2 separate regions of the Homo sapiens genome follow, and region 2 is linked to region 1. The links come from fine-mapping of genetic effects on gene expression. A gene starts in region 1. The other region holds a variant in brackets. All regions are shown on one strand. Distances are between the middles of the regions.

Evidence for each region. PIP is the estimated chance that this variant, and not a neighbour inherited with it, causes the effect.
Region 2: its variant is the best candidate, but not a certain one, in a credible set for the expression of SIRPB1 in whole blood (INTERVAL, PIP 0.67).

What each region holds. Positions count from the first base shown.
Region 1 is chr20:1,617,576-1,621,972 of GRCh38, reverse strand. SIRPB1 (signal regulatory protein beta 1) reads left to right here and starts at 1,964. Exons shown (of 6, transcript NM_006065.5): 1 at 1,964-2,104. The coding sequence starts at 2,029.
Region 2 is chr20:1,469,341-1,473,737 of GRCh38, reverse strand. It overlaps a transcript of SIRPB2 not described here. Among named protein-coding and RNA genes, the nearest start is that of NSFL1C, 4.7 kb to the right of the region's middle. The variant G/A (reference allele first, on the strand shown) is at 2,052.

The sequences.
Region 1 (4,397 bases):
TATCTCTCCCTTCTTATGAGAGGTGTCATAGTGAAGGCCATGGAGTGTGACAACCTGTGTTCTAGTTCTAAAAGCTGGGTGATGTTGAACAAATGTATTATTGCCTGCGTGCCTCAAGTTTCCTCACCTATAAAAAAAGGTTAATGGTAGTGCTAATTTCATGGGACCAGAGTGATGAATTAATGAGGTAACTGACAAAATGCTTGGCACAGTACCTGGAGCACAGGACATCTGCAGTAAACACAGCAGCTACTACCCTTCATGTCATATAGAGACTAGTTTCTTGTTTTAAAGTGTAATTTGGCATCGATTAACATGATTTTATCATTTTTATATTCATTTCTGTGAGTGTGGAGCAGGAGGTGATGATTTCACCCTCTGTGCATCTGCCACATTGAAAAAGAAATTTGCATGGAAATGTGATGACTTTTACAATTTCATTTGACAATTACTCATGATAGGTGAAGGATTGCAAGCCCAGCATGGGAAAGAGAGGTTTCCAGACAGGTCTTTCTTAGTCACAGATGATGGAGGAGAAACCATTTCTCCTACCAAGGAAATTTTTCTAAAGCACAAGTATGTCAGGGAAGCAGTGAACTCACCCTGTACACAAATGTAATTATAGCCACAATTTTTTGGTTATAATTAAATATGAATCAAACCTTCTGTATGGCTTATATTACTCTTACCATATCACTACAAGGTGCATGTTATAACTTCCATTTACATGTAATTAAGTTAAGGCTTAGAGAAGTCAAGTGTCTTGTTGAAAGTCACACAGCTGGAGATTGTAAGAAAAGGAATTCATCTACAGATTGACAAAAAGCAGGGTGAAGAGGATCCAGAGGGAGAAATTGATCTCAGAGTGTCAGAGGTAGACCAAGTACACCATAAAAGCTGGGTTCCAGAAGTCCGGGGAACATGGGAGAAGGCCACTGGTGGGAAACTCAGCATGCAGTAGAAATCCATTTAAAAGCAATATTTGAGTTCCCTCTCTTCACCTGGCACCATGAGTATCAATAATAACCTACTGAATCTCAGGGATGTATAGTCATTATCTCTTTTGATGTTCACTAAAACATGGCAGTGAGACTTATTATCCCAAGGTTAGAAGGCAAAACTGAACCTAGGCAGGCCCAGTAACTTCCCCAACTCCTTAGCACATCTTCTTAGGGTATTTATTCTCCCTCCCTCCTCAGTTCCCATCTGAAGACAGTGATGAATGGAATAGGTGTTCTATGTGCAGAGCAAAGAGTATTGAAATCGATGTGACTGCTCCAGGAATCTGCCCTCCATATTCTCCCCCATAATAAACATATCCCCTTTCCATAACCCATAATCCCCACCTCACCTCACAAAGCAGATCCTTATTACCCTAAGCCCACTTCCTCTCCTGGAAGAAGTCAGGAAATAATTCCTTCTGCTGGGTGCAGGCATATGAAAGTGCTAACGGCCACATGAGACTGAATTTGGGCTAAGTTTTGCCATTTATATTTATAAAAGTTCGGAATAGGGAACCATTTCAAGAGCAGACCTGTTCCTCTCCAACACTGAGCAGGTCCAGTGATCCCTCATCCTGCCCCAACTGAGTAGCACTTGGTTGAGGCTGTTGTAGAATGAGACCACAAGCCAACCACATCCTGAGGTCTTGAGATGGAAAGTTTAGGAAACATTTCATAACCACAGGTCCTTCCTGGCTTAAGAGCACCAAATGGCAAATCACCAAGAAGACATAAAGATGGGGTTAGGAGTCATGGAAGGAGTTAAGACCTCAGGTGGGAAGGAAGCATTATTTCTGCTAAGCCTGTCTGATTCTCCTGAAATGGGGCATGCATAACTGCTTGCATTGTAGCTGCTTGCTGTTCCTGATTTCTGTTTCACAATCCAGAAGCAGGTTACTGCTTCACTCCATCGCAGCCACTTCCTCTTGAACTAAGGGAGGCAGGGCTTGTCTTCTCTCCTCAGAGCAGAGTCTGCGATCTTCCCAGCACAGACGTTTGGACAGAGCAGGCTCCTAAGGTCTCCAGAATGCCCGTGCCAGCCTCCTGGCCCCACCTTCCTAGTCCTTTCCTGCTGATGACGCTACTGCTGGGGAGACTCACAGGTGAGCACTGCCTTCGGTTAAAATCTTTTTTCCTGCCCACTGAGCCATGGCCTGTCCCTGGACTTTCAGGGATTCCGGACAATGACAAGTGCTGCCAAGAAAGGCCAAGGATTAGGCTTTGACTGAGAGCAGAAAATCAGGGAGCTGAGCACTTTCTCTGTGGATCTGCAGCTGGCTACCAGAGGCATTGAACCACAGGACGATTCAACCACCACAACAACAATTACTTACATTTTGATAATATTTCAATTGAAAAAGCAGAGAAGAATCATTATCTAAATCCTCACCAGTCCTGAGGCCCTAGGGCCAAGTGACATGCCCAAGTCCACAGAGTAAGCTCAGAGACACCCTAACAGGGTTATGTGGCTCTAGGCCCAGCCCTCTCTCTTCACCAAACTGAGGATGTGAAGTCTGTAATAGTGCTCACTTGAGTAGGGCAGTGGTGTGGTGTATCCTGGGAGTGTTCAGCCACCATCCTCCCTAAGGGTGCTCCTCACTTTGTCCTCTGTTCCCCCATGCTCCTCCCTCCCCTGTGACCTGATTCTTACCACCCATTTCTCTGTGGCCTCTTCCTCTTTAAGAAGTTCCACATTTGCTGCTTACTGGGTCCTATATTCCTTTCCTAGGGCTTCCATAACAAAGAACTGCAGGCTGGGTGGCTGAAACTACAGATATTTACTTCCTTGCAGTTAAGGAGGCTGAAGTCCAAGATCAAGGTGTCAGCAGGGTTAGTTTCTACTGAAGTCTCTCTCCTTGGCTTATACAGGGCCATTTTCTCTCTGTGTCTTAAACACATGATCTTCCTCTGTGTGTGTCTGTGTCCTCATCTCCTCTTCTTATGAGAATATCAGTCTTGTTGTATTAAGGCCCACCCCAATGACCTCATTTAACTAAATTACTTCTTAAAGACCCTGTCTCCCAAACTGTAACGTTCAGAGGTGCTGGGGATTAGAGCTTCAACACATGCATTTTGTGGGACACATTCAGCCCATAACAGGTACTACAACCTCCTTTGGTTCTCTTAAATTTCCCATGGATAATTTCTTTCCCCTTCCCAAGACAGGCAGGATTGGAGGGCCTTTCCTGGTGCAGCCTGGGAGAACCCTGCTCACAGCTCCCAGACAAGTTACCTGTCCTGATCCCTTCTCAGGCCATGGAGCTGACCCCAGAACCACAGGGCTGGGCACAGCAGCCTCTCAATTCCCCACTGGGCCCTGCTGTGATGTCACCTCACAGGCCCTAGAGGGCAGGGGTCTCACTTTTCAAATTATTTTTCTCACACATACACTGTACCCAAATGACAGCAGTAAGAGTTTAACAATTGAGCTCTTCCTACCATGTAGACACAGTTATTAGCATTTTGCCTGTTTTAGCTCCACTAATCCTCACAACATCCCTGTGTGAAAGCTGCAACTATTATCCCCTATTTCCAAACAAAGACTCAGGCAGAGGGAGGAACTTGTCCATTCATTGTCCCCTACCTCAGTCAGTGGAGCAGCTGAGATTCAAGTCCAGGTCGACCGGCTCCAAAGTTCATTCTTTTAGTCGTGTTATGCTACTAGCAGAAATATTAGAAAATGCAGGGAAGTAAACATAGAATTAATTATTGCCTACCACACTTGTTAGCAACAACCAGAGTTACAACTGTGATGTATGTACTTCTAAATTTGTTATTAATGTGTTGGATGCTTTCTATGGGCCACATATTTTACTTTCTATGGGCCAGATATTTTAATGAGATTTTAACGTGTGTTGTAATTTTATTTAATACACAAAACAAACTTATATACTATCACAATAGGTCACACTTTGATATATATTTGTGAATGTATATGTGTGTGTCTATATATACATATATATGTGTGTGTGTGTATATATACATATATGTGTGTGTATATATATTTGCAAATGTGTGTATACATATGTGTGTATACATATGTATATGCATGTATGCATATAAGTAAGTGTACATGCACACACAGGAGATTTCATTTTTTATCATTGTTTCTCCAAGTTTCTAATTTCAATGAAACTTTTAACAAAATATTTTATTTTTATTTGACAGAACTGTATATACTTATCATGTATACCATATTAATGAAATATGTGTACATTGCAGAATGCCTAATTTGAGCTAATTAACATATGACCTACCTTGTATATGTATCATTTCTGTGGTGAGATCTCTCAAAATCTGCTTTCAACAATTTTTGAGGTTACGAATTGTGTTATGAACTCTAGACCCCATATTGTACAATAGATTTGTGGAACTAATTTCTCCTAACTAAACTGA
Region 2 (4,397 bases), 150 kb after region 1:
TGGTCCCTGCCACCCCCTCTGACCTCATCTCCCCAGATCCTGTAAGCTGACTCTTCTCCAGCACCCCTCTGGACTTTGACCACACAAAGCTCCCTGATTCATTCAAGTCTCTGCTTAACTCTTACCTTTAAAGGCCTCTCTGGACCACTCTATCCAAAAAAGCACCTCCATCACTCTCATTCCTGCTTGCCACTTAAGTTTTCTTCATAGTACTTACTGCTACCTGAAAACATGTGTGTGGTGTGTGTGTGTGAGCGCACATGCATGTGTGTGTGCACCTATGTGGGTGTGTGTGCATGCATGTGTGCATCTGTGTGCCTGCGTGTGCACGTGTGTGTGCGTGTGTGTGCGTGTGTGCATGTGTGCGTGTCTGTGTGTGCGTGTGTGTTTGTGTATCTGCTTCCTTGATGGTTGTTAGTTGTCCCCACTAGAATTTGAGCTCCCTGGGGACAGGAACCTAATGGTCCACTATTGTAGCCACCCTCATTGAATCCTGAAACGTGGTTGAAAGCTGACTCTGTGCCAGGCCCTAATCAGTGTGCTGAGAAAGAAACAGAAGTCTGCTCTCTCAGAGCTTACCTCCTCCCGAGAGAAGACAGACAATGAGCAAGTAACCCTAGGTGAGTAACAGGCCCCACTATACTGAGTGCTGAGGGCCTTCACAACGCAGGAGGAGGGGGAAGGAAGTTGCCAGAGCAAAGGGGAAGTGACACTATTTTATGCAGGGTGGACAGAAGAGGCCTCCTGATAAAGTGACATTTGAGCAGACACCTGAAGGAGGTGAGGAAGAGAGCCCTGCAGATACCCAGGGGAAGAGCTGAAAAGTACAAGGAACAGCGAATGCAAAGGTCCTGAGGCAGGAGCGTGCTTGACTTGCACAAGAACAGCAAACACCAAGCAGAATGCCTGGCCTGTATTAGACCCCGTAAACGCCTGAACTACATACATGGCAGAGATGAAGCACACAGTCTCGGAAATCTGGCTGTGCAGGTTCAAATTCCAGTTCTCCTACTTATCTCTTGGGTGAGTTTGTTTCTCTCAGTTTCCTTGTCTATAAACTGGTAATAACATGCGTGTCTCCCTTATTAGGTAGTTTTGAGGCTAAAATGCATTGGTATATGTGCAGCACCTGGCACATAAGAAGCCCTAAATAATTATTATAGTTACATTATTTCATTAGGCTATTGTTATGCAATTCTAACTATAAACTGTAGTCACTATCCTCCCCATGACAAGGAGCATGGCAGCCTACAGTGCCTGGGCCCCTTATCGGGCAACTTCAGAAGTCAGATGACCCTACTCACCACAGACTCAGTTGTAAAATCCTATAGAAAGTTGGCCCTGCTTGGATCCAGGGACTTATAGGGACATGGCAGGGGAGCAAGGTGGAGGCAAGTCCACTAAAGAAGACAAATATAACAAAAGATGAACAATTTAAGGCCCTTCGTGGGGACTCTGGGAAACCTGCTGACCACAGATAGAAAGGGTGGGGAATGGATGGGAGACAGAACTCCTCAGCCCAGCCCTTCTGCTGCTTTGGGGCCCCAGGCATTGCACAGGTGAGATGACCCACCAAAGACAGAGCAGGGGGCATGCCACAGCCCCCACTAAGGGCCAACAGGCCACTATTACATGTCCTGCCTGGGCCTTCAGATCTGATGCCTTGATGTCAGTGACTACACTCCAAGATCCCTGAATCAGGGCATCCGTTTCTCTCCCTCCCCTTCTGTTTTCTCCTTCCTGCAGCTCTTCTTTAGCTCTTTCCTTCCCTTCCCATGGTTCTTGTCCCATGCTCTTCCTGCCCCAAGGAACCCCCATCAAGGCTGCCAAAGTCCCAGACTTTGTGACTGCTCCCTGTGAGAGATAGGTCTATTCACGCCACTCTCCTCGGGCTCGAGGACCCTCCATTTCCCCCTGCAGGTTAGACCTAGAGCTGGAGGAAGAAAAGGAGCAAACACCATTTGACAGGGGCTTCCTATAACCTGACAACCCAAGGATGGCAGCCCTGCTGCATGCAGTATTGGGGTGGCGGTATCGGGGTGCAGTGAGAG[G/A]AGGTGCCAGCCAGGTCAAGAATAGTCCGTCCTCTCCACAAGACACACCGCCCAGAGAGCAGCTACATGTCATTGGCCTGAGAAAGTGGGGAATGCCAGGCCTAGTCAAGCACATTTCTAAATTCTATCTAAATGGCACTGATTAATGGCACTTTGCTACACAGATCATTCTCAACCTTGCTTTCTGACTCAACATTTGAGTTATATCCAGGTTGGTTACCTGTAACTCTAATTCATTCATCTTCAGAACTGTATAGTATTCCATTGTATTAACATATTACATTTGTGATTTCTGTTGATGGATGGAGACCTTAGTTGTTCCAGTTTCTCGCTATCCCAAACAGAGACAGTTTCACTGTGTCTCCTGATGCATGCACAAGTGCACACACCCACAAGTAGAACTGGAGGGTTATACAGGTTCTGTGCTTCTTCAACTCCACTAGATTGGCCAAATCATGCCCCAATGCCATTAAGCCAACATATACTGCTGTTAGACACAGGAAAATTCCTGTTGTTTCAGGCTTATGCCAATATTTCCTATGGTCACATTACAGGGAAGTGCGGGAATCTTCAGTTCTTGTCTGCTTGGAAGAAAGATTTCAGCCAAGAGACACACAGCAAAGGTGAAGTAGCAGAGTTTATTGAAGAAAGATAAAGTACGTTCCTAGAAAGGAGTGGGCTGACCTGGCTGGAAAACAGCATCAGGCAAAAAACAGCAGTAGCAGTGTTTATTTAAAGAGACAGTACACTCTGAAAGAACGAGCCAGCAGCAGCTGGTGCTGGGGGACCCTCTTTATGAGAATCTTACATGATTATTCGTGCAGGGGCATGAGGGAGCGTCACTTACAATCATGTTTTAGGTGGTCCCCCTGGCTGTGAATGTTGTGTGTTTGTACGCGCTAGTAAACACATTGCCTGTCTCATTAGCATTTAAAATCTCCACTCAGGGGTGTGTTTTGTTGTTATTATTATTATTTTTTGAGACAGAGTCTCGCTCTGTCACCTAGGCTGGAGTGCAGTGGTGTGATCTCAGTTCACTGCAATCTCTGCCTTCCGGGTTCCAGCGATTCTCCTGCCTCAGCTTCCTGAGTAGCTGGGACTACAGGCACGCACCACCATGCCTGGCTAATTTTTGTATTTTTTTAGTAGAGACGGGGTTTCACCATATTGGCCAGGCTGATCTCAAATTCCTGACTTCGTCATCCGCCCACCTCGGCCACTCAAAGTGCTGGGATTACAGGCATGAGCCACTGTGCCCGGCTTGTTATTATAATGAGCAAAAGGCTACTGTAGGGCGAGTTACTGGAGGAGTGCACATGCTCGTCAGTGGGAAAGTCCCTACCATGGTTATCTCTGGGTAAGGCCTCATAAGTCCCCTTTAGGGCCAGAGGAGCCCAACCACAAGGCCAGAAGTTGCCAGTGTAGCCATTGTCTCTTTGCTGGCCGCCAGTGGGTGGCGCTGACTGTCAGTGAATGGAGTCTCCAGGACTTCTTTTCCCAAACGCTCCCTTGCCTGCTTATTTCTGGCTATCTGCCTACTCTAACAGTCAGACTTGTAAATGTTTTACCAGTTGGATAAGGCAAAAGGGAATCTCATTGCAGTTTTCATTGGTTCTCACTGCTGACTAATGCAACCAAGCATTAGTCACCGGCTGGCAGTACTGTTATTTTATTATTATTGTCATTAGTTGAAGATGTTGTGAAAAGAGAGACAAATAGTCCCAACTTTGCTGAGGCAGTGGTAGTGTTGTTATTATTATTATTATTTTTTTTTGAGACAGAGTCTCGCTCTGTCACCTTTTGTGAAGAAGAGTGGTAGAAGAAGGCAGTGCTGAGGCTGAGGTAGTAGAGAAGGGTGAGTGGTACCGGCAGCTTCCATGTATAGGGGCCTCTGGAAGGTCTGAATGTCAGCTGAGAAATCAATCATTTGCTCCACCTAGCAGCTCCCCTGGCCCCCTAAGCTATAGAGGGTTTAGCGCTTAGGGGACTGGAGTAGGGGGTCAGAGGAGACACCAGTCCTGGGTACACACAGCTCCTGCCCAAAGTGAAGTCACCACCAGTGAGGACACGGCAGAGGGGGTGCCAAAGGAAGGCTGGGGTGGGGCGGGAGGTGGTGGAAGATAGGATTAAAGGGAGGGGCTGGGGTGAGACTGGAGTGGGAAGGAAGATGGAGATGAGCCCGGAGGGGGCTGGGGGTGAAATGGAGTGAAAGTGGGCTTTGGAGGGTGGGGTGCATTTAGTACTGAGGGTGGAGTTAGAAGGGAAAGTGGGGCGGGGTGGGTCAGGTGCTGGTGGCGGATCTGTGAGGTAGAGGTGAGGCTGGAGGTGGTCGTGGTGGTAGAATTT